Homo sapiens: one gene and its partners. The protein of the gene in region 2 purifies or fractionates together with the protein of the main gene of each other region. This does not show direct contact. Each region holds a gene or a part of one and is shown on either strand. Other genes may lie near its edges.

Region 1 (6,636 bases), on a different chromosome or scaffold from region 2:
GTGGGGTGTTGACACCGAAGGAGGCTGGGCAAAGAGGGTATACGGGAGCTCTGTATTTTCTGCTCAATTTTGCTGTGCATCTAAATAAAAGTGCTCTAAAAATGGTCTATTTAAAAGGAAAAAAATTCTTAAGACAAAGTCAGATCCATTAGTAATTAAAAAAAAAAAAACCCAGCAGCTTTTAAGTTATCTTGTGTACATGGTTTAACAGAGGTATGGTCTTATTATGGAAAGAGTGTTCAAACCAGGCCAGAAGAATTTCATAGCCATGTTCATATTCAAGGCAACCATAATATTCTACTTTGCAAAAACAGGTTGGGCAACCAGCCTTTTAAGTCACTATGTCTGCATTTGGGGTATCTATAAGTAGGTAGAATCTAGTGTCCAATTGGAAATATTTCTAACTTCTCTTGTTCTCAAAACCATGATCTAGCACTTCAGTCCTCTTATGTGGTCTTCTGTCATAGCAGTCCCACTCAGTACAGAGCAGTTAATGAGATATTATAGAATGAAAACCAAGACCAGGTATTTCTTAAATTTATTGAAGAACTCTTAGCTGGGAGAAGAAAGATCACAGGCTTAAACAATTGTAAGATAAAAGAACAATTAATTGCAAATAATTACAAAAGTAATTTCTGAAATTTTTTGAGCCACTGCTGAAACAAAACTTTAGTGCATCTCAAAGTTCGTATTTTGTTAAGTGAACATATTAAATTACTGAAAAGCAAAAAAGAGTTACTGTTACACAGTACAAGATCTTAATATAGTAACTGAGCACAGCCAAATAAACAGCTATAATTATTCCAAGCTGCTTTTGCTATGTATCTGGTATATTAAACAAGAAAGTGGATTACTTTTAACACTGCACAAGTAACCAAAGGTAGCAAATCCAGCAATATTAAAACCGGATATTAAATAGTATTCAAACATTACAACAAAAACAAAATAAGAACTTCTAGAACTAGAACTCTACCCTATGAAAGGAATGTACACAGATGGTTAAAAAAAAACCAATAAATAAATAAAGTGACAAGAGTGACTAATTCTGTATCCACATCTTCAGAGCAGGAATACAGTAAATGAGTAAATGCTTAGAGGAGTCTTGCTGAAAATGAGAAAAAATGCATCTCACTTTAGTATAATTTTTCTAAATTCTCACTGAAGCTCTAATTCTCTTGTGCTGGTGACAGGTGGACAGGGTTTTTAAATGCAAAGTATTCTCCCTACACCCTGAGTATGGATGCATCAGTTGTTTAAAATTCTGTGGAAAGTTTCCTTAGAAAAACATAAAATTTAAAGTGATATACTGATGGGAAATTGAATATATTAATTGTGGAAGAATATCAGCTAACTAATTAACTAAGTAGACATTTAAATCTGGACTCTGTTGAAGAATCAAGGTTAAACTCTGCATTATGTGCACTAATGTCAGCCATCTAATATCAAAGTCAGATAAGTAAACTATCTTTCACTTTATACATAGTGCATTTAGTAAATAAATTCTCTTACCAGCAACATAAAGCCCTTGTTGGAGCAAAATTAAAGTATTAAGAATTGAATTAACTTACAACAAATATCTGAAGGGTAAGTGGAACATTTTTCAAAGTATAAAGATGTTATCACATATATTCACCATGAATCCTCTTAAAGGTTTTATAACACCATTAAATTATATCAAATATCCAACAGATATTGTCATTTTCTTCTGTGATTTATAAAGGAAACATTCCTTTTGTACAAATCAGAAGTATCTTAAAAATCAACCTTAACACCAAAATATACATGTAATTTTAACTTGGTTTAGGAAAACATGAAAGAACTGTCACATTTTGGTGTGAACAAGGTTCTGAAAACCCCCTATCAGAGGTCTCATTCACTTTTTTCCACATATCACTTGAAGGTTTTGAAACTGGTAAAAACAGAATTCAGCTCGATGTACATCAAAACTTTAACAGTTCTGAAAAAGACGTATTTCGTAAGGGCCAAAATGTACAGCACAGCAATATTACAATGTTACAGTATAAATATGTCAAGCCAATTTGTAATAAAATAAGACAGTTGTCTTCAAAAGAGCTGTTTGACTATAGAGCAACCAAATAGATCTAGAACATCTTTGGAAAAACCACAAAGTGCCTTTACAGAAAGTTAAGTTTAGACTACACTTAATTAAAAGATAATACTCTAAACTCAAAATTATTTTCTCTATATGAGGAATTTTGACACTTGTTTTCACACCTGCCAATATTCAATATTTTTAACTCACACTTCTTTTCATACATCTGCCAATATTTAATATTTTATTCTATGCCCCTGCACTGAATTGATGTAAGTGTGAAGTTCCACTATTATTATTACCACACATGCTAATACCTAATAACTGGTCTGTCATTATGTAGTGGTTAAATAAGCAAATGCTGAACTCAGCACAGCTCTAGCAAAATGCAAAGGAAATAAGAAAAGCCTCACCTCAGAATGATTACACCATAAACAGAAATAAACATTTTCAAACACAAAGTTTCACAAAATAATATATCATCACTTTAAAAGAAATTCAGAACTCTATTTTGCTGTTGATCAAACTTGTGCATACACTCAAGTTACTAAACACAATTTGATAGTTAGATACTTGTAAAAATGCATTCTAAACTTAATAATCAATTAATTCATAATTAACAAGAGCAAACATTCCTAGTCCTAACATTTAAAAAAACCCAGTCCAGTGCTGCCACATCTCAAGTTCTGAAAAGCTAAAGGCAGGAACAATTCTGGTTATACAATTCCTGCATTTCTCCACCTTAAAAAATACTTGAAGAAACTTTAGGAAACTTTATATTAAGGCTTGCTGTATTTCTGTATCTTAAATTGAGAAAAATCAAAACCTACGATGTAACCTCGAATTATTTAAATAGCTTTTGGCATTTTTCTTGAAAAGCAAATTTGAATCTTTCACTATAAAACATTTCTATACCACAATTACTAATTCACATTAATGTGTAAGTGCCCTCATTTCCTATTCCCTGGCAGGCGCTATGTCTTCTTTCTACGTTTTGTGCAGCTTTCAGAACAGTCAGTGCTCAGAAAAAATGAAAACGTAATGGAGCAAAATCAAAGTCCCCAAAAAAAGTGATTTATCCTAGATTACAAAATCCAGTAGTGGAAGAACCAACATTTACACACCCAAATACACACACACCCACACATACACAGGACACAGCGAGAGATGAGAGAGAGTGGGGGGTGGGGGAGGTGAGAGACAGTGGGAGGAGGGGGGAGGGGGAAGAGAGTGGGAGGAGGGGAGAGAGAGTTGCAGGGAGGGAAGAGAGAGACAAAAGCAAGACACAACCTTTGTCCTCTATTCATGTCAACTTGCAGTTTCTGGACACAAACTAGTAGGAAATGTAGAGCCCAGAAAGATCGTGTCAGAGAACTTGACGAGACAGTGTAGATATAGTTTATCTGGGTGGGGCGGGGTGGGGGGAAATCCCAATTTTTCTAAAACAAACAAACAAACAAACAAAAAAAACACCACATTCTTGGTAGAGGTTTTTTCAAAAATCCAACAATAAAAACTACTGGGCTTCTCTAAATGCATTTCCATATTAACATTAATTTTTAAAATTTCAACATGTTTTACAATTTAAGTTTTCACTTGTAAGATAAGTTGGGAACCCAAAATTGTCAAAAAAAATTTTAATTATTGTCAATAAAAATTCTTACTGCACAATCTTTATAGGCGTTTTATTTTAAAGCACCTTTTTAAATTTTAACAGTGGGTTTCTAAAAAGAAAACAGTAAAATAAAAGAGGGAACAAACTGGCAAGGTTAAAGTACTCCCTTACACACACACACACACACACACACACACACACACACACACACACCTTTCATGCCAGAATGACTGGCAGCATTGGCAAATAATGTCAATGAAAGGATGGGGGAAACTATCACTTATAGTGTTTATAGAAACCTAAAATACTAATGTTTCTGCTAAGAAATTAAATAGTTTGGGGAAATCAAAAAGCTACCAATAGCTGATCTATGAAATATGAAAATGAAACTGATTTTTAAAAACAGGAAAGGCCAAAAATCTACTAGAAATTTTTAAAAATCAGCCTCAATTTTATTTTCTGATGTCAGACTAGTTATTAATTAGATACCATTTGTTTGCAAAGGAGCAAAATTATAACTCTATCACTGGAACCTATCCTCAGCCACTTCAGTGCAGTTTCTAGCAGCACTATTTGGATACAAAAAGAATGTGGTCAGACAATGCCCCTGAAAACCCCCTGGTTAGACCTTCCTTCAAATACATGTTCTTAGGGTCTTGACACACTACACATGTGTATAGAAGAATAAATGAAGGTAGTATTTTGACAGATTACAAAAGTATGAACTATATACACCGAGTGATAACACAAAGCGCTCAGAAAGCTATATTTACTTGCCTCCCAACTGACTTACGATGTTAATATTCACTATTCAAATTTTATCCTAAACATCTTTATTGGCTTGTTCCCCTCCCCAAACAAATACTAAAATATACTGGTTTGGGGTTTGCTCTATGCATTTTCCAAGAGCCAATCAAACAGCGACTTGCATCTCTCCTCACTGGAAGCTTTTTCCATCACTTCATAGTATTGAAGCACAGCCTGCAGGAGGTCTCCCACTTTCCATCCTTTCTCTTGTAATTGTTTTGAAAGCTAAGAAAGAAAGATGTGTCAAACATTAACCAAAAACAATTTTATAACAAAGCTTTTATTTTTATTTTCAATATTAGCTGAAACTTAAGAATCCTGCTGTTTACAATTAAATACCGTTTCCTAGTTATAACAAGGTCTTCCCCTCTAAACCGCTACCCCTTTACCCAAATTAAACATTTTCCCTTCTTCCCCTTTATAAACACATCTCCTCCAGAGAATGACACTTTGGGATCGCTGGAGACAGAGCTCCACAAACCTCACCAAGCAAATAGTCTGCATGGACATGCAGAGGCTGAGTTTCTACAGGAAATTCTTCACCTAACTAAATACAACTGCCACACCCTCAATTAGGACATAAAATAATAAAGACAACGTCAAACTCAATAAAAGGATGTGGATTTTCCTTCCACAACATATAGTGTGGCATTTTTCTGGAATACACACTCTAGCCTCAATGGAAACATGGCTTTCTAAGTTAAAGAATGTTAATGTTTCAACAACAAAACAACAAATAAATAAATAAATAAATACAGGTTTAAATAAATCCTGTTGTCACCACTCACGACATGCTTTTGTTCATTTCTTTTTCTACTAAGTTCTGTAAAAGCTCTTAAGTTTTGAAAGATCTGTAAGTTAAATTCTGAAAAACTACTTTAATTTTGTGTAACATATATATGCTTAACCTTTTTAAAAACAGCTTTATTGAGATAAAACTCACATAACATACAATTCACCCAAAGTGTCCTAGTCAATGGTTTTTAGTATGTTCTCCAAGTTGAATGCAACCAACACCACAATTCGAATATTTCTACCACCCCAAAAGGAAAGTTCTGATAAAGAAAATTATGGAACAAAAACCTTAAGACTGTAAACTGAAAATCTTGACTAATAAGGTACTTGGCACATAGTAAGCATCTTGTTTAAACTTTTATCGGCTTTTAATTATGACAGCTGCTCATACAAATGAAACTGGATTATCAGAGAAACAGATATATTAATCATTAGGTACAATTACAAATCAATTAAATACAGAGAATAATTCAATTTTTTCATAGGAACACACACAATGCTTATTAATAGCATCTACCTTTGAGAGCTTAGTGTTATGCCAGGCATTAGACCAAGCATTTTTTTTAACATTATATTTAATCCTCATAAACCCCTGTAAGGTAGATTCTATATTCATTTGCATAGTGCAGTTAGGGGCAATGAGACAGACTGGTGAACCTGCCTCTGGTTATACTGCTAGAAAGTGGCAGAGCTGATGTCTGAACCCAAACTGTTGGACACTACAGCCTAAGAATTTAACCATCACCAGGCATCTTGTTAGACCAATCACATGACAAGAACATCATATACTGTTAAATGTATCCTCACACTCTGTAAGGTAGGTACTTACTAGCATAAACTCCTTATTTGCAGAGTCATGAAAATAAAGTTCTGCAACTTCAGCCTCAGAGGCAATGAGCCACTGAAGAATAATCCTTAGCTGGGGGTCTACCGTGCATGGCTCCATGTCAATATTCGTAATTAGCAGTGTCTTTCCATCTTGCCCCAAACCTAATATTTAAATGTAAACAATATAAAGTAAAACTCATCAATTTAACTCTCAATACTCTGGTTGTCAAGTAGATACAAATATTTTCTGGTTCTTAGGATTCTAATGAATGGTGAAAAAAATATCCATCTTTTTCTAACCACACCATAACCTCAACTAAAACTTCTAAAGGGCAAAATAATGTAAAACAAAGGAATAACTTTGATCATTTATTGATTGCAAAAATATAAAACATCATTTTAACATACTGAATTCAAGTTCTATAAATGCCATAATTTGATATAAATTATGACCAGTGGGTTAGAGAGAAAATAAAACTATAAAGCTATCATTACAATAAAAATAAAAATGAGGCTGGGCATGGTGGCTCAGGCCTGT
Region 2 (7,897 bases):
TAGCTGGGACTACAGGCCTGCACCACCATGCCTGGCTAAGTTTTTTTATTTTTGTAGAGATGGGGATCTCACTATGTTGCCCAGGCTGGTCTCGAACTCCTGGCCTCAAGCAATCGTCCAAATGTTATGTTAAGGAAATAATCAAAGACTAAAGAACAGTCATGTTAAAAGGACACAGGAGCCAGCCACTAGTTAAATTTGGGACAATTTTATCATGAAAAAGTTAAAAAAAATTTAGTAACAAAAAATAATATGTAATTATTACACATACAAGAAAAAAAGAATTGCAGGTAGTAAACAGAGAAGAAATGTCACAATTTTTTAAAATTACTCTTTTTGTAATTAATTTATTTTAGTATTATTATTATTTTTGAGATGCAGTCTTGCTCTGTTGCCTAGGCTGGGGTACAGTGGTGTGATCTCAGCTCACTGCAACCTCTGCTTCCTGGGTTCAAGTGATTCTTTTGCCTCAGCCTCCCGAGTAGCTGAGATTACAGGTGTGTGCCACCACACCCAGCTAATTTTTGTATTTTTAGTAGAGACGGGGGTTTCACCATGTTGGCCAGGCTGGTCTCCAACTCCTGACCTCAGGTTATCTGCCTGCCTCAGCCTCCCAAAGTGCTGGCATTACAGGTGTGAGCCACCCTGCCTGGCCTTTGTAATTTAAAAATTACAATTTGGGCTGGGTATGGTGGCTCACGCCTGTAATCCCAGCACTTTGGGATGCCGAGGCGGGTGGGTCAGGAGTTTGAGACAGGCCTGGCCAACATGGTGAAACCCTGTCTCTACTAAAAATACAAAAATTAGCTGGGCGTGGTGGTGGGAGCCTGTAATCTCAGCTACTCAGGACACTGAGGTGGGAGAATCGTTTGACCCTGGGAGACAGAGGTTGCAGTGAGCTGAGATTGCGCCATTGCGCTCCAGCCTGGGCAACAGGGCGAGACTCCATCTCAAAAAAAAAAAAAAAAAAAAAAATTACTATTTGTAAGCCCCCAGTGTAATAAATGATACAGGTAAAGACCATTGGTGGATGCTAAACACAGTGGGTGAAAAGTTGTCGGGGTATTCTTAGGGTCTCAAAGTATCACTGTACTGATTATATGCTAATTCTAAAGAGGAAAATATACCTTTACAATGGAGAGATCTGGCTATTACCACCTTATCCAAACAGTAAAATTAAGCATCACCAGTGATGGGACAGCCTGATATCATTTGCCTCATAATGTAATGTACTGTGAAGTTCACACTACTTATCTTCTACTTAATATATATGTATCTCCTATGTAATATTTTCCTAAAAATATTTATTTTGAATCTAATCAAGTAAACATATAAATGTAAAACTTGGGACATTCTACAAAACTACCCCAAACTCTTTTTATAAAAGGCCAATGCCATGAAAAAACAAAGAAACAAACAAGTAGGATATTATTCTAGATAAAATTACAAGGGACATTAACCACATGAACCCTGACTAGATCCTGGATGATAAAAGTAAAACAAGAAATATAAAACACTTTTGGAGACAATTTGGGAAATTTAAATACAGGCTGTCTGTTACATATTATTGAATTACTACTGATAGTCTTAGGTGCAATAATGATTTATGGTTATAAAAGAAGAATGTCATTCTTAGGAGATATATGCCGAGATATTTAGGAGTGAAATCTCAAGATATCCACAATTTACTTTCAAATGGTTCAGCAAATATGGAGGAAATATGTCAAGATGTTACAACTGGTAAATATAGATGAAGTATATGGGTATTCATTGTACTCTTACCTATAGATTTGGAATTTTTTAAATAAAAGCTTTGGGGGGAAAATCTCAGTTCAAATGTTGTATCTTCTGTGGAGGCTTTTTCTTTTTCCTTTTTTTTTTTTTTTTTTTTTTACTTTTCTAGTGGAATTAGTTTTTCTGTCTTCAGTATTCCTGCAGGACTCTTTATATTTCTACTTTAGCACTTAACGAATTTGTTAACTGCTAATTCCCAGGTCTGACCTTTTTCCTATACTGTGTGAAACTGGCCTCATCTTCATTCCCAGAATTTAGCTCTTTATCTGGCACGTACTAGGTATTCAATGTTTGTTGTATGAATGAGATAAACTGACATGCTACAGTAACTAAAACTGAATCTTGGTATTGTCTATATCACATGTGTCTCAAATTTAATTAAATCTATCAAGCAGGAAGCCTATTAAATGGTCCTTTGTGATCTGTACCATTATAATGAGTACCAACATTCAGATGGATTTAAAATCAATTTAAAACAAAGCATAACATGTTTCCCTCAAGCAGGCTGACCCTTAAGTCATCACGGGCATATTTTCATTTAAATTCTTCACACTTTCGACTCAAGAAAATTAGAGAAGCATACCTGCTCTATATCCTTGGAAGTGGAGGTCTGGTTTTCTCCCATGATTCCAGGTTGCTCATTTTCCCATGGTAATTTATTTTTTCCTTTTCCTGCACTTAATACCCTTCGGGTACAGATAGTTGGGCTGTAAGATCCATAAATGTGCATGCTATCCCTCACGTGGTCACCACAGTGACAGTGTGCACTCTGAGTTCTGTTACCAGCCAAAAGCCAGTCCGTATCTGCTCCATGTGCCAAATGGTTTGACCTACCCCCGGCAGAAGATGGCATCAGTACTGCATATTCCACAAATCCCTGCTCTGTGAGCCTTGGTAAGGTTTTCCTAGCCAATCTGGCCTGCACAGCATTCATCACTCCATCTCCATTATCTTGCAGTTCAACTGTATCCACAGCTTTAAAAAGGATGCTGGTTTTACCTGAGCCCATTGATGATGCCAATACGGCAAAAGCTTCTAAAGCTGCTTGGCGTACCCTGCGTTTGCTATCTACAAGAGCTGGGGCAAGATCAAAGGACAGTTTGGGCAAGTCAAAATCCTCACTAGGATAGGTCAGCAGGGAGCAGATGCAAATGTTCACCACCTCCTCTCTCACTCTGGAATGCTTATGTTTGAGATGTTCCAGGAGTAAACAAAGCACCTGCTGAGGTCCTACTTCCTTCATTAGCTTGAGGAAGATTTTCATGTATTCTTGTTTGATCACCAACTTGTTGTCCGCCAGCACTTTGACAGAAGCTGCTATAACTGGTCCCAAGAACTGCTGTACCTGCTCTCCAAGGCGAATAACCAGTAAATGCAGGACTTCAAGTGTGCCATGCACCACTTTGAAGTTAGAATCGTCTAACAAATTATATAGCAAACTAATGAAGCCAACAAGACTAGAATGAGGAGTAGAACTAGGGTTAAATTTTCCCAGCACCTGCTTTAGTTCTTCGACGGCCTGGGTCCGGTTCTTATAGTCTTCCTGATCCAATAATCGTGAATGCAGCTCCTGAGGAATAATCCCAAATTTAAGATTGCTGTTGGAAAGAGTCACTGCACAGGGAAGGGGATCTTCAGGAAATCCAGAGGCTTCAAGTTCCAAATAATAAGGAACCTGACTTCCAAACTGGGACTCCAGGCGGCGATTGTAGTGTCTCCTCAGGGCAGAGGGCAGACGAGAAATGTAAGATTGAAACCTGTCTTGGCCAAGTCGCTCCCCAATTTGTTGAAGTGCGGAGAAAGCTGTCTCAGATTCTTCTTCTGTCTCCTGATCACCAAGCTTTCGGGCTAGGGATATTATCACCTCGGTGAGATCCAGACCAAGCAACAAGTCCTCAGTAGTAAGCAAGATGGGAAGCAGTAGTGCTGTGGAAGCTCTAAGTCGGGCATCGGTACTTTCCAGTCCTTGTTGTATAAGCGTTCTCAGCACCTCTCCAGGACTACGTTTCAGACATATATGAAGGATCTGCAGCGCATCTTTCCGCAGGGCTGGATTCTCTTCCCGTAACGAGACAACTAGTTGAGGCAAAAGTGCTAAGCTAAAGGCCTCTTCAAGCTGGCCTGCCTCCCCCTGACCCCGGAGAACGTCCGAGAGAAGTTGCAAGCAGAGCCGCTTCTCATCACTACCTCCTTCCACAAGCACTCGGCCCAGTGCCCGATACAAAGCTTCCTTGCGTCGGGGGAAGCCAAGTCGACCGCCCCGCCGCGGCAAAGCAGCTTGCAAAGCCTGGAAGGCCTCAGAAGGATCCCGGGCAGTGCGGAGGAGTTGAAGGAGCCGAGTGTCCTCTTCATCTCCCCCTGACAAACCGCCTCCAGACTCAGACCAGCTGCTTGAGACTGCCTCCGAGGGCATCAAGAGGGCCGAGGCCAGAGGCGAAGTTGTAGTGGGGCAGGAACCGTGGTCCCCCGCAGCTCCACGGAAGTAGTAGTTTTTCTCTCCTCTCATAATGCCCCCAACTCGACTATCATCGGTCTCTGGGGCGGAAGGACGACTGCGGCTCTGGAGCCGATAGGTAGAGAGGACTGGAAAGGGCGGCAGCAGAAGCAGCGCGGAGGGGGCAGCCGCCATGCAGGGTTGTCAGGTGGTGGTGGTTGGAAGAAACCATTGCCGTCTCCAAAGGGCTCGATGGAGCCCAGACTTCCAGATCCTCTCCAAGCCCCAAGCTGCAGAAGAGGCAAAAGAACAGCTTCAGCCTGCCGCCAGGCCGCCCCCAACTCCGGGAGGCAGCCTCTGGCAAAATGGCCCCCGTCTGAGCCCTAGACCCCACAGCTGCCACCGGGCGTAACCAAGGGCACCACGTGACCAAACCGATTGCTTCCATGGTGATGTACCCAGCGCGGACCTCTTGACCCGGAAATCCACTTGCCGTGATGAATGCTGGGTTATGTAGTCCACGTCAGGTGTTGAGACTAGGCCAAAGTCTCCTGGAAGAGGAAGTCAGAACGTTGTAAACGCAGCTACAGCGGAGAAGGGAGGAGGGGTGAAGCCATTTGACGGATGTGACGCTTTCCTTGCTCTGGGCGGAAGTTGCCCGCCCCACCCGTAAGAGTTAGGGTTTGACCGGAGCTAGTGAGGATCCAGCCCAGGCTCCAGTTGTCCGCGGTTCCTCCTCCTGTCGCTGCCCGTGTGATTACTGAGACTCAGGTATTTTCCTTTTGCTGTCCTCCAGCGGTGCAGGCTTTGGCAGTGTTTTGCCCGAATGCCACTGGTGCTAGAGTAAGAGGCAAAGGACTGAGCGGAGCAGGTGGAAAGAGAGGCGACATCTTCTTGTGCAGGGCTCGTCACCCTTGTAAACGCGTTACTCTCTACCACCCTGAGTAACTGCGATCCTTTCCTCTTGCCATCTGCTTATCAGGACAGAAGATCTGGACCACGGCCAAGCTCACAAATCGGGTATTTTTTTTCAATTCCTGGTCTTTGGGGCCTTTATTCGCCTCCCCCTTCTCCTTTTGTCGACTTCTCTTAACCCTCCGGCCGCAGAGGGTTAATTTTTTTTTGTTTTTGTTTGTTTGTTTTTGGCAACGTTTCCTTACCCTCATCACTTTGCGTTTTCTTTACAACGTACATAATATGGAAATAGGTCTGTTTTTTTCCCCCTGTAGCTAACCGCCTCTCCCTTAGACGTTATCAAAATCTTTCCTTCTAATGCAGTTCCTCTGTGGGACTCTCCCCTAACCTCCGCCCCCTCCGTCTGCCGCCCTAGCCTCCCTGCAGGATCCTCAAGCGTCTCTGCAGCCTTTCAGTCTCCTAGAGACAGAGATTGCGAAGACAATTTCACTTGCGGTGGAAGTTCTTGGCATCATGGTTCTAAGAGAATTCTGCCTTGTGGATTTAGGAATGATAGTAGACATTTATTTATTTTAGGCGAACTGAGAATTTTGTGTGCATTTTCTCCTCATAAGTGATACTTAAACGGACACAGTGGAAGAGCTGGAGTGTCTAGTGTGAGCCTGAATGCTTTGGAGTGTGGAAGAGATATTTTTTTTTTTTGAAGGAATAATACTATTACTTTTGAATGACTCGTGCGAAAAGTCTAAGTTATCATTTGAAGACCCAAATTTATGCACTTCAAATGCAAGTATTCCTACCCTGCTCTGTACCAGGTGGGATTTCTCTTAAATACTTTTTAAAGTCTTGGAATAAATGAGTCACATATGCCAAACAGCTTTATAAATAATGCTCCCAGCTGATGCAAGTGCAAAAATAATTTCTGGATTTTTGCCTTAAAGTACGATTTGAATATCAGTTTTGTTTTGTTTTGTTTTTGGGGGGGTGGGGGTGGGGAATAGACTATAATGTAAATGAGGCTGTGTAAATATACATCCTATGTTTTGGTTTAAATTCTAGGCTGTTACTTTGGTTTTAATGAGCCATTTTCGTGTTTAAATGAATCTGCCTAAATTAGGTTTAGCTAGCATGTTTCATTTTAGGGACAGGTTAAAGACAGGGAGGTGAAAAACAAGAAATGATTGTAGCAGTTGTCAATGAGAAAGTGTCTGGTTCTCACAGTTCCAACCTAAGAAGCTCAAATGTGTAGACTTCTAGTCATGTATTGCCCAGACTTGAGGAACCCAGTTCAAACTAACCTAGACAATGATGTACACATTACAGTGCCAGTTTATGTTGGATCAGAATTTTCAAGTTGAAAATCCAGTGCACTCTTTCTTGTATCCAAGAACTTGGGAAGCCAAGTTAATAACTAGAGGTTGTGTGGTAATCATGGAATCACAGAAAAGGAACTTCGAAAGTCTTAAATGAGAGACGTGGATACTTAAGCAGTTATCATGCCCTTTTCCTGGGAACAAAGCAAGATGAGTCTTCCTTTTGATTCTTGTTTTTTTAGATCCCTGTGGATCACTATACATTACAGATTGCAATTTATTTTTTATCTGTTACATTTTGTCTCTTTGATTGAAGACTTAGAAGAGGCATTAGTCTCCATAGTGGATATTTAGGAAATGGGACTTCATCAGCATCACGTCTTACTGATTATCTTTTAGAGTTATTTTGTGGAACATAAATCTCATTCATTGAGTGTGTATTCTTTTTATTACGAAGCAGATTTTTTTTAATCTTTGGAAATCTAGGAATTTCTCGTATATTGACTTAAAAAGCCTTTTGTATTTAATCATATATAGAGAGAGTACAAATTTGTAATCAATTTTTAGATAGTAGAATACACTATTAGGTGTTTTATTAATAGTACACCTCAGAAAGTTAAAAGGAAGTGGTTAAGGATACATTGAAAATTGCAAATTCAGCTAAAACAAGTTTAAAATTTCAATAATTTCAAGAATGTAGTTAAATTAGTGAATTATAGGAATGTGTGTGCTACATATGTTAATTTTTTTAGCTGAACTTAAGGGTAAACACAATTGCCCTAAAAACTTACTTTATTTCCAGAATCAGAGATAACACATTAGTTCCCTGGGCGAATCACTATGATTTTTCTGTGTTCTTACTCAAATTTTACAGACATCCAGGAATATTGAACGTCAGTGTGAATTCTGTAAACTATTAAGAATTTTGTGTAGTTTGAGAAGTTATTGTGAAGAAATGCTATGCAAATGAAAGTTGCTATTAATATTAACAAACAATCATAATAATACCATGTTTTGAGTATTTGCTATGTGCCATGCACCATGCTAGGTACTTAGTAAATATTAACTCATTTAATCCTCACAAGAATTTTTTGAGGTTACATCTTCTACATTTGGACTATGGAACATTTTATGGGTGTTTCCACAAAAGAGTAATTGGACAGAGGAAGAAAGTAAAACTCACATTTGCTTAGAGCTTGGAGAAGGTTTTGGTGGAGGTCACTGTTGAAACTTTAGGATAAAATTAGATTTTTTCCATTATTATTCATTTATTATATATCATTTGATTATATATTTTTTAATTTATTATTTTTTCTTTCAATCCTTGGTTGAAGATTATATATATTTTAATCTATCCTTTTTGGATTTCTATTCAAAATATTTTTAGTTTCTTGTTTGAGGTAACACTTTAATAAGTTAAGAAATTATGAGCTTATTTTAT
Region 3 (7,084 bases), on a different chromosome or scaffold from region 2:
ATGTAGATTTCTGTATGGACATAGTTTTCAAATAAGCTGGGTAAATACATAAGAGCATGATTGCTGGACTGTGTTATGACATTATGTTTAGCTTTCCATTCAATTTAAAAGATATTTTGGCCGGGCACGGTGGCTCACGCCTGTAATCCCAGCACTTTGGGAGGCTGAGGCGGGTGGATCACAAGGTCAGGAGATCGAGACCATCCTGTGAATGGTGAAACCCCGTCTCTACTAAAAATTCAAAAAATTAGCCGGGTGTGGTGGCGGGCACCTGTAGTCCCAGCTACTCGGGAGGCTGAGGCGGGAGAATGGCGTGAACCCAGGAGGCGGAGCTTGCAGTGAGCCGAGCTGAGACTGTGCCACTACACCCCAGCCTGGGCGACAGAGCGAGACTCTGTTTCAAAAAAAAAAAAAAGATATTTTATTTACTTTTTGAATAGGTAATGCATGTATATGGTATCAAATACAAAAGTAAGTTTTTCTCCTGTTTTATAGTGTTTCCCTCAATTTCCCTTCTCCAGATGCAGCGTCTGTTCCATTTCTTCCTTTAGGTGCTAAAGAAAATTATTCAAAACTTTGAATATAGCAAGAAGATGACTGCATGTGCTTCCAGTTATACTGAGGAATTATATAACAGGCTCACCCGAGATTCATTAATTCTCTAGGGCAGTGATTCTCAGAGTGTAGTATGTGGCCCTGGGGGGCCTCCAAGGTAAAAATAACAATACTATGATGTTATTTGCTTTTTTACCATGTTGACATTTGCAATGATGGTGCAAAAGCAATGGCAGGTAAAACTGCAAGTGTCTCAGCAGGAATCAAGGCAGGCCATTGTCCTAGCTTCCTGCTGTCACAAAGTACCATAGACTGGGTGGCTTAAACAACACATGTTTATTCTCTCACAGTCTTGGAGGCCAGAAATCCAAGACCAAGGTGTTGGTATCTGGTGAGAATTCTCTTCCTAGCTTGAAGCAATCTCACTGTGTCCTCACATGGCCTTTCTTCTGCATGTGTGCAGAGTGAGATCTCTAGTGTCTCCTTCTCCTCTTATGAGGATACCAGTTCCATTGGGTTAAGGTCCCACCCTTATAACCTCATTTAACCTTTAAGTATCTTTTAAAGGCCCTTCTAACCACCAATGTGACTCCAAATATAGTCCCATTGAGGACTGGGGCTTCAACATATGAATCTGGTGGGGGGCAGGCACATTCAGTCCATAACGGCACCAAACTCGACTAGTATGCACTGCCTTACACTTACAGGTTAAAAATGTTCAGTTTCACTTAAGAATGCTCCTGATAGCATTTAATTATTAATTTTATTAAAAGTTGTTTTATTAAAAGTTCTCCACTTGAGAACAAGTCTTTTTAATAGTGCATGATTAAAAGAGAAGTACACATAAGACATGTCTGCCTCATACTGAAGCAAAATGGTTGCACTGATGCAAAGCACTTGTGTGATTGAGTTGCCAATTGAACAAGTCACAGAGCATCATTTTTACTTGAATGACAGAATGAAGTGAGCCTGTCTCTTCAAGGAAAATAATTGATTGTATCTACTTCCAATAATAAAGTTCAAGTTTTTAAGCTAAAATTAGAATTCAAAAAACCCATATCCCGCTTCCATGAGCTTGAGTGCTTGTCAATAAAGACAGACTTCTCTGATGAGTTTAGTGGTAATTCTAACAAATGTTATTTTTTGATATTATATAATGAAATGATATTAGAAACCAAGATCTGGGGGCAAGATATGCTCGTTGCATAAAACGAGTGAACATTTGGAAGAGCTGCATAACACAGTGGACCAACATTTTCAAATGACTAATTAATACATGATGGTATAAAATCATGCATTTATTAACGATCCATTCAAAGTGAAAGACCAATCGATATTAATGTAACAGAGTATGAAAAGTCTATAGATACAGTTTTAGATTCCATATGGCAAGTAACCTTTAAGAAACTACCAGTTACAGGGCTGGGTGCAGTGGCTCACACCTATAATTCCAGCACTTTGGGAGGCTGAGAGGGGAGGATCGCTTGAGCCCATGAGTTTCAGACCAGCCTGAACAATGTAGGCCCAACCTCGTCTCTATAAAAATAATTTAAAAATTAGCCAGGCACAGTGGCATGTGCTTGTAGTTCCAGCTACTCAGAAGGCTGAGGCAGGAGGATTGCTTGAGTTCAAGAGTTCAAGGCTACAGTTAGTTATGATCACATCGTTACATTCCAGCCTGGGTGACAGAGGGAGACCCTGCCTCTTAAAAATAAAAAAAATAGAAACTATCGCTTGTAGAAGAATTTTGATGTCATTTTAAAGACAAATAGCCACATTTATTTGAAAAGACAAAATATTCCTCTCATTTGCAACTGTCTGTGTGAGGTTGCATGTTTTCATATACTTCAATGAAAACAACATAATGCAAATTATGTTGCAGTGAATGCAGATGTGAGAATCTTGTGGTCTTCTTTTTTTTTGTGGAGACGGAGTCTAGCTCTGTCGCCCAGGCTGGAATGCAGTGGTGTGATCTCGGCTCACTGCAACCTCTGCCTCCCGGGTTCAAGCGATTCTCCTGCCTCAGCCTCCAGAGGAGCTGGGATTACAGGCACCTGCCATCACGCCTAGCTAATTTTCGTATTTTTAGTAGAGACAGGGTTTCACTGTGTTGGCCAGGCTGGTCTCGAACTCCTGATCCTCCCGCCTCGGCCTCCCAAAGTGCTGGGATTACAAGCATGAGCTACTGTGCCGGCCAAATCTTGCTGTCTTCTAGTAGGCTCATTAAAGAGATTTGCAAAAATGTAAAACTATGTTACTCCTCTCACTGAACTTTTATTGCTTTGAAGAACATTATTTTTTGCATAAAAGTATGTTAACATGTAATGTGTTTTATGGTCATTTAAAAATGATTAAATAAATATTTAAACATTTTATGTTTTAATTTCTAATGTGGTAAATATTGATAAGCATAACCCATATCAACAAATGTTCTTTGGAATGTTCAACAAATTTTAAGAGGATTAATGGTCCCTAAATCAAGAGTTTCAGAACCACTGTTCTAGGGCAATTTACCTGAGTTGGATTTTATTTACAATTCATTAAAGCTTATACACTATGAAGACATGTTAACTTGCATGTTTTAATCTAGAAGAGGTGCAAATCATTTCTATACACTAGAAATGATAATCTATGGTTTTATCATCTTGTAGAACACCAGCCAGCTTTGTATCCAACCTAATCTTACTCTAATGCTTTGTCAAAATGTTTAATCTCCACTTCCTCAAAATGCTTTTGAACCAGCTTTACCATATCATTGTTAATTTGCTGAAGAAATCTTGGATATGTGTTCATGATATATTTGTATGAGTGTCATGCTTTTTACTTTTTTAAGATTATACTTTGACAGACACTAACAACATATGTATATATGACGTATATATGTATATACATACTATACACACACATACACGTACATATTTCACAACGATGGCATACGGATTCTCTATTCTGAATCTAGCTCTTTCCACTTAATATACGTTGAATGCACTCTTTATTTTCTTCGTCATCTTGACTTTCTTCTGATGCAACGCCCTGAGTTTAACTCACAGATCTGTTAATAAGAAACCCATACATCCCACATATACGCATTTTCCCGTCTCTGGCTCACTAACAAAAAGCTTACCCTAGCCCCATCTTTAACCATAGGTTCCAAATACCCAGGCTGGAATTCAACACAGAAATAAGAAAGGATCCACAGACAACGTGACAAAAATCCGAGCAGTCACGTGACACTGCACGCCCCATAATTTTTTTCCGCCCGCTTCAAACATGGCGGTCAAGCCCTCGCAGCGCAGCAGAAGCCACGGGCTTCCTTCCGCGTAGGAACCTCCTTGCTGCCCTTGTCGGGCTCTTTTGTCTAAGACCACCTCAAGGCAAAGCCCGTGGGGCAGCTGGGTCTGGGGAAAACAGCCCGGGGCCGCGGGGGCCGAACGAGCACGGACCGGAAGTTCCGCAGCCGCGCCGTCCGGCGGAGCCGTTGGCTGCGGACGCCGGAAGTGGCCAGTCGGCAGGTCTGAGGCGGCGCTGTGTGTGTGAAGCGTACCTAGGGCGGGAGGCGACATGGAGACAGGGGCGGCCGAGCTGTATGACCAGGCCCTTTTGGGCATCCTGCAGCACGTGGGCAACGTCCAGGATTTCCTGCGCGTTCTCTTTGGCTTCCTCTACCGCAAGACAGACTTCTATCGCTTGCTGCGCCACCCATCGGACCGCATGGGCTTCCCGCCCGGGGCCGCGCAGGCCTTGGTGCTGCAGGTGAGGCGGGCGGGCCTGCGGTCTGGGGAGCCGCCGCCCCCGGCCTGCCCTGACTCCTGGCGCCCGCTCCTCCAAGCTCTCCCAGCCTGTTTCCTCCTTTTCCTGGTGTCCTGGGGTTGAGCTTGTGAGAATGGCTTCAGTAATTTGAAGCGCGGATTGGATGTCAGCTTATTCCGCTGAGGTGTTCGCTCCGGACGTCCTGAGGTTTCAGAAGTAGTAAGCCGACTGTTAAGAGCCCTACTCAGCACCCGCCAGCGCGTACCCCTCACGGTGCTGGGGGCCGCTAGTCAGGGAGCGAAATCCATGCAGGCCAGACAGAAGGAAGGACATTTACAGCAACAGAAACGTGCATGCCCCAGAACTACCAAAGACTTGAGCTGGCGGGGATGACGGAGGCATTGTGTTGATCAATGGGTGTGGTCGCTTGTTTGAAATGTGACTTCCCAGGTCAAAGACTGTCAATGTAGTGCTTATTAAAATTTCTATTTGAGCTTAATTCCGTACCCTCCAGGTTAAGTTTATTGTATGTTGGAAACGCTGTCAATACTCATTCAGTGAAGTTGACTGGGCACTTTTGAATGTAGTGGTAAGCAACCTTTTGCTGAATGTAGTTTACACTCTTAGTTGCCGCAGGTGAGGGTGATACGGGTGTTTAAGTAATGGTTTCTCTCTCCTTGTGACACAGTTAAAGAGAGAAAACCCAGAAAGTAATAGAAAACTTTTTAAGGGCAATTATTTGATGGAGCCCATTGTAAAGAAAGGAAATAGAAATGATGGTTGAGAAGTGAAGTTTTTATAAGAGAGGTGGGACTTCTGATGAGATTAAAAGAAACTATTCAGCCAAGTATTAAGCCTATTTGTAGAAACCCAAGAAGATAGAAATGCTGATGATACCTCCCTCAGTTCTCTAGATGTTACAGTTTATAAAATGCTTCAGATGTTTCCTCCTGAAGTCTTAATGCATGCTGCAGGTTGGTAAGATGTTACTTTCCTCAGCAGAAGCCAAAGCTTTGAATGTCTTGGTAGCTACCAGGGTAATAGGGCCAAACGAGGAATGGGGTTCCATTAGGATTCAATTTCAGAACTTAAGGCTATTCCTCGTCCTTGTCAGTGGCATAAGTGCCATCTTAGTGATGAGAGAGCTGTTGGAGGTGGCCTTTAGCAGGATCTTATGGCAGGTTAATGAAGTCTTGCCATTTGATCTTCAGTGTCTCTGTGAAACAGATAAGTTTCAAGTTTACGTACCAATTCAGCAAGGTTAAGTGATTTGACCAAGAACACACAGCCAGTTCACCGTAGAGCTGAAACTAAAAATTTCATTTTGTGGATTCCAAATCTTCCTGTTCTGTTGTTTAACCATTCCATAGTAGGATGAGAACACTTTTGTCTAGATTGATTGTAGTTTGCAGAAAGATGTGGAGGAGAAAGGAGTATATACTGAGTAATATGTATAGTATCAGATGTTTTATATTCTGGGGTCGTTATCTTATTTAACCCTTAATATAACCTGAGAGGTTGGTCTTTGTTTCACAGATGAACTGACAGAGCACTCATTAACCTGGTAACTCATTTACCTGGTAACACCTCTTACAAGACACTTCCATAGGTTAGGATTTGGTGACCAGTCTAATGAAGTAGTGGAGATGGGGAGCAGGGATGGAGGAAGGGGAGGGATGGGTCAAAGATGATCCAAGGTTTCAACTTGGGTGACTGGAATAGTGATAATGCGTTAACTGAACTGTCACCTGGGTTTAGGGGAAAAAGTTCAGTTTTAGACAGGTTGAACTTGAAGTTGCAGGTAGGAGTCCCTGCCCATAGGCTATTGGAATTACTGGACTAGATCTTTTGGGAGCTAGAGCAACTGGAGTGGTCCGAGGGAGAGAGAAGAGCCAAAGGTGAAGAACAGGCCTTGGGGAATAATCTTGGTGGAGAGCAATAAGTTTCACAGAAACCAAGGGGACAACAGTCTCCAGCAGATGCTTAAGAGAGGTGTCATGTTTTCTGGAAGTGGTTCTCAACCATCAGCATCGCTTAAGGAACTTTTTTCTTTCTTTTTTTTTTTTTTTTTTTCCTGGAGATGGAGTCTCACTCTGTCGCCCAGGCTGGAGTGCAGTGGCATGATCTCAGCTCACTGCAACCTCCGCCTCCTGGGTTCAAGCAATTCTCCTGCCTCAGCCTCTCGAGTAGCTGGGACTGCAGGTGTGCGCCACCACGCCCGGCTGATTTTTGTATTTTTAGTAGAGATGGGGTTTCATCATGTTGGCGAGACTGGTCTCAAACTCCTGACCTTGTGTTCTGCCTGCCTCGGCCTCCTAAAGTGCTAGGATTACAGGTGTGAGCCACTGCGCCTGGCCAAGGAACTTTTAAAAGCACATATTCCTGGATATTTTGGTTGGGTAGATCAGGGTGAATCCTGGGAACCTGTTCTTTTTTTTATTTTTTTATTTTTTATTTTTGAGATGGAGTCTCATTCTGTTGTCCAGGCTGGAGTGCAGTGGCGCAATCTTGGCTCACTGCACCTCCTCCTCCCAGGTTCAAGTGATTCTCCTGCCTCAGCCTCCCGAGTAGCTGGGTTTACAGGCATGTACCACCATGCCTAGAGAATTTTTGTATTTTTAGTAGTAGAAATGGGGTTTCACCGTGTTGGCCAGGCTGGTCTTGAACTCCTGACCTCAGGTGATCACCCGCCTCAGCCTCCCAAAGTGCTGGGATTACAGACATGAGCTACTGCACCTGGCTGGAACCTGTTCTTTTATCCACAAAAGCTCATTTGACA

Evidence for each region.
Region 1: the proteins of KLHL28 (region 2) and AKAP11 purify together in Homo sapiens (affinity purification with mass spectrometry; 2 studies listed by BioGRID and IntAct, with this or other methods). This does not show direct contact.
Region 3: the proteins of KLHL28 (region 2) and NUDCD3 purify together in Homo sapiens (affinity purification with mass spectrometry; 2 studies listed by BioGRID and IntAct, with this or other methods). This does not show direct contact.

The regions. Positions count from the first base shown.
Region 1 is NC_000013.11:42,317,152-42,323,787, reverse strand, and holds the end of AKAP11 (A-kinase anchor protein 11), read right to left. Parts: intron 6,261-6,636; coding exon 6,100-6,260; intron 4,701-6,099; coding exon 4,560-4,700; 3' UTR 527-4,559; downstream 1-526. UniProt on the Homo sapiens protein: Binds to type II regulatory subunits of protein kinase A and anchors/targets them.
Region 2 is NC_000014.9:44,958,948-44,966,844, reverse strand, and holds the start of KLHL28 (kelch-like protein 28), read left to right. Parts: upstream 1-4,897; 5' UTR 4,898-4,999; exon of another isoform or gene 5,000-5,248; intron 5,249-5,359; exon of another isoform or gene 5,360-5,916; coding exon of another isoform or gene 5,917-5,958; intron 5,959-7,897. Other genes in the region: TOGARAM1 (TOG array regulator of axonemal microtubules protein 1), read right to left, coding at 2,378-4,423.
Region 3 is NC_000007.14:44,487,633-44,494,716, reverse strand, and holds the start of NUDCD3 (nudC domain-containing protein 3), read left to right. Parts: upstream 1-4,058; 5' UTR 4,059-4,116; coding exon 4,117-4,308; intron 4,309-7,084.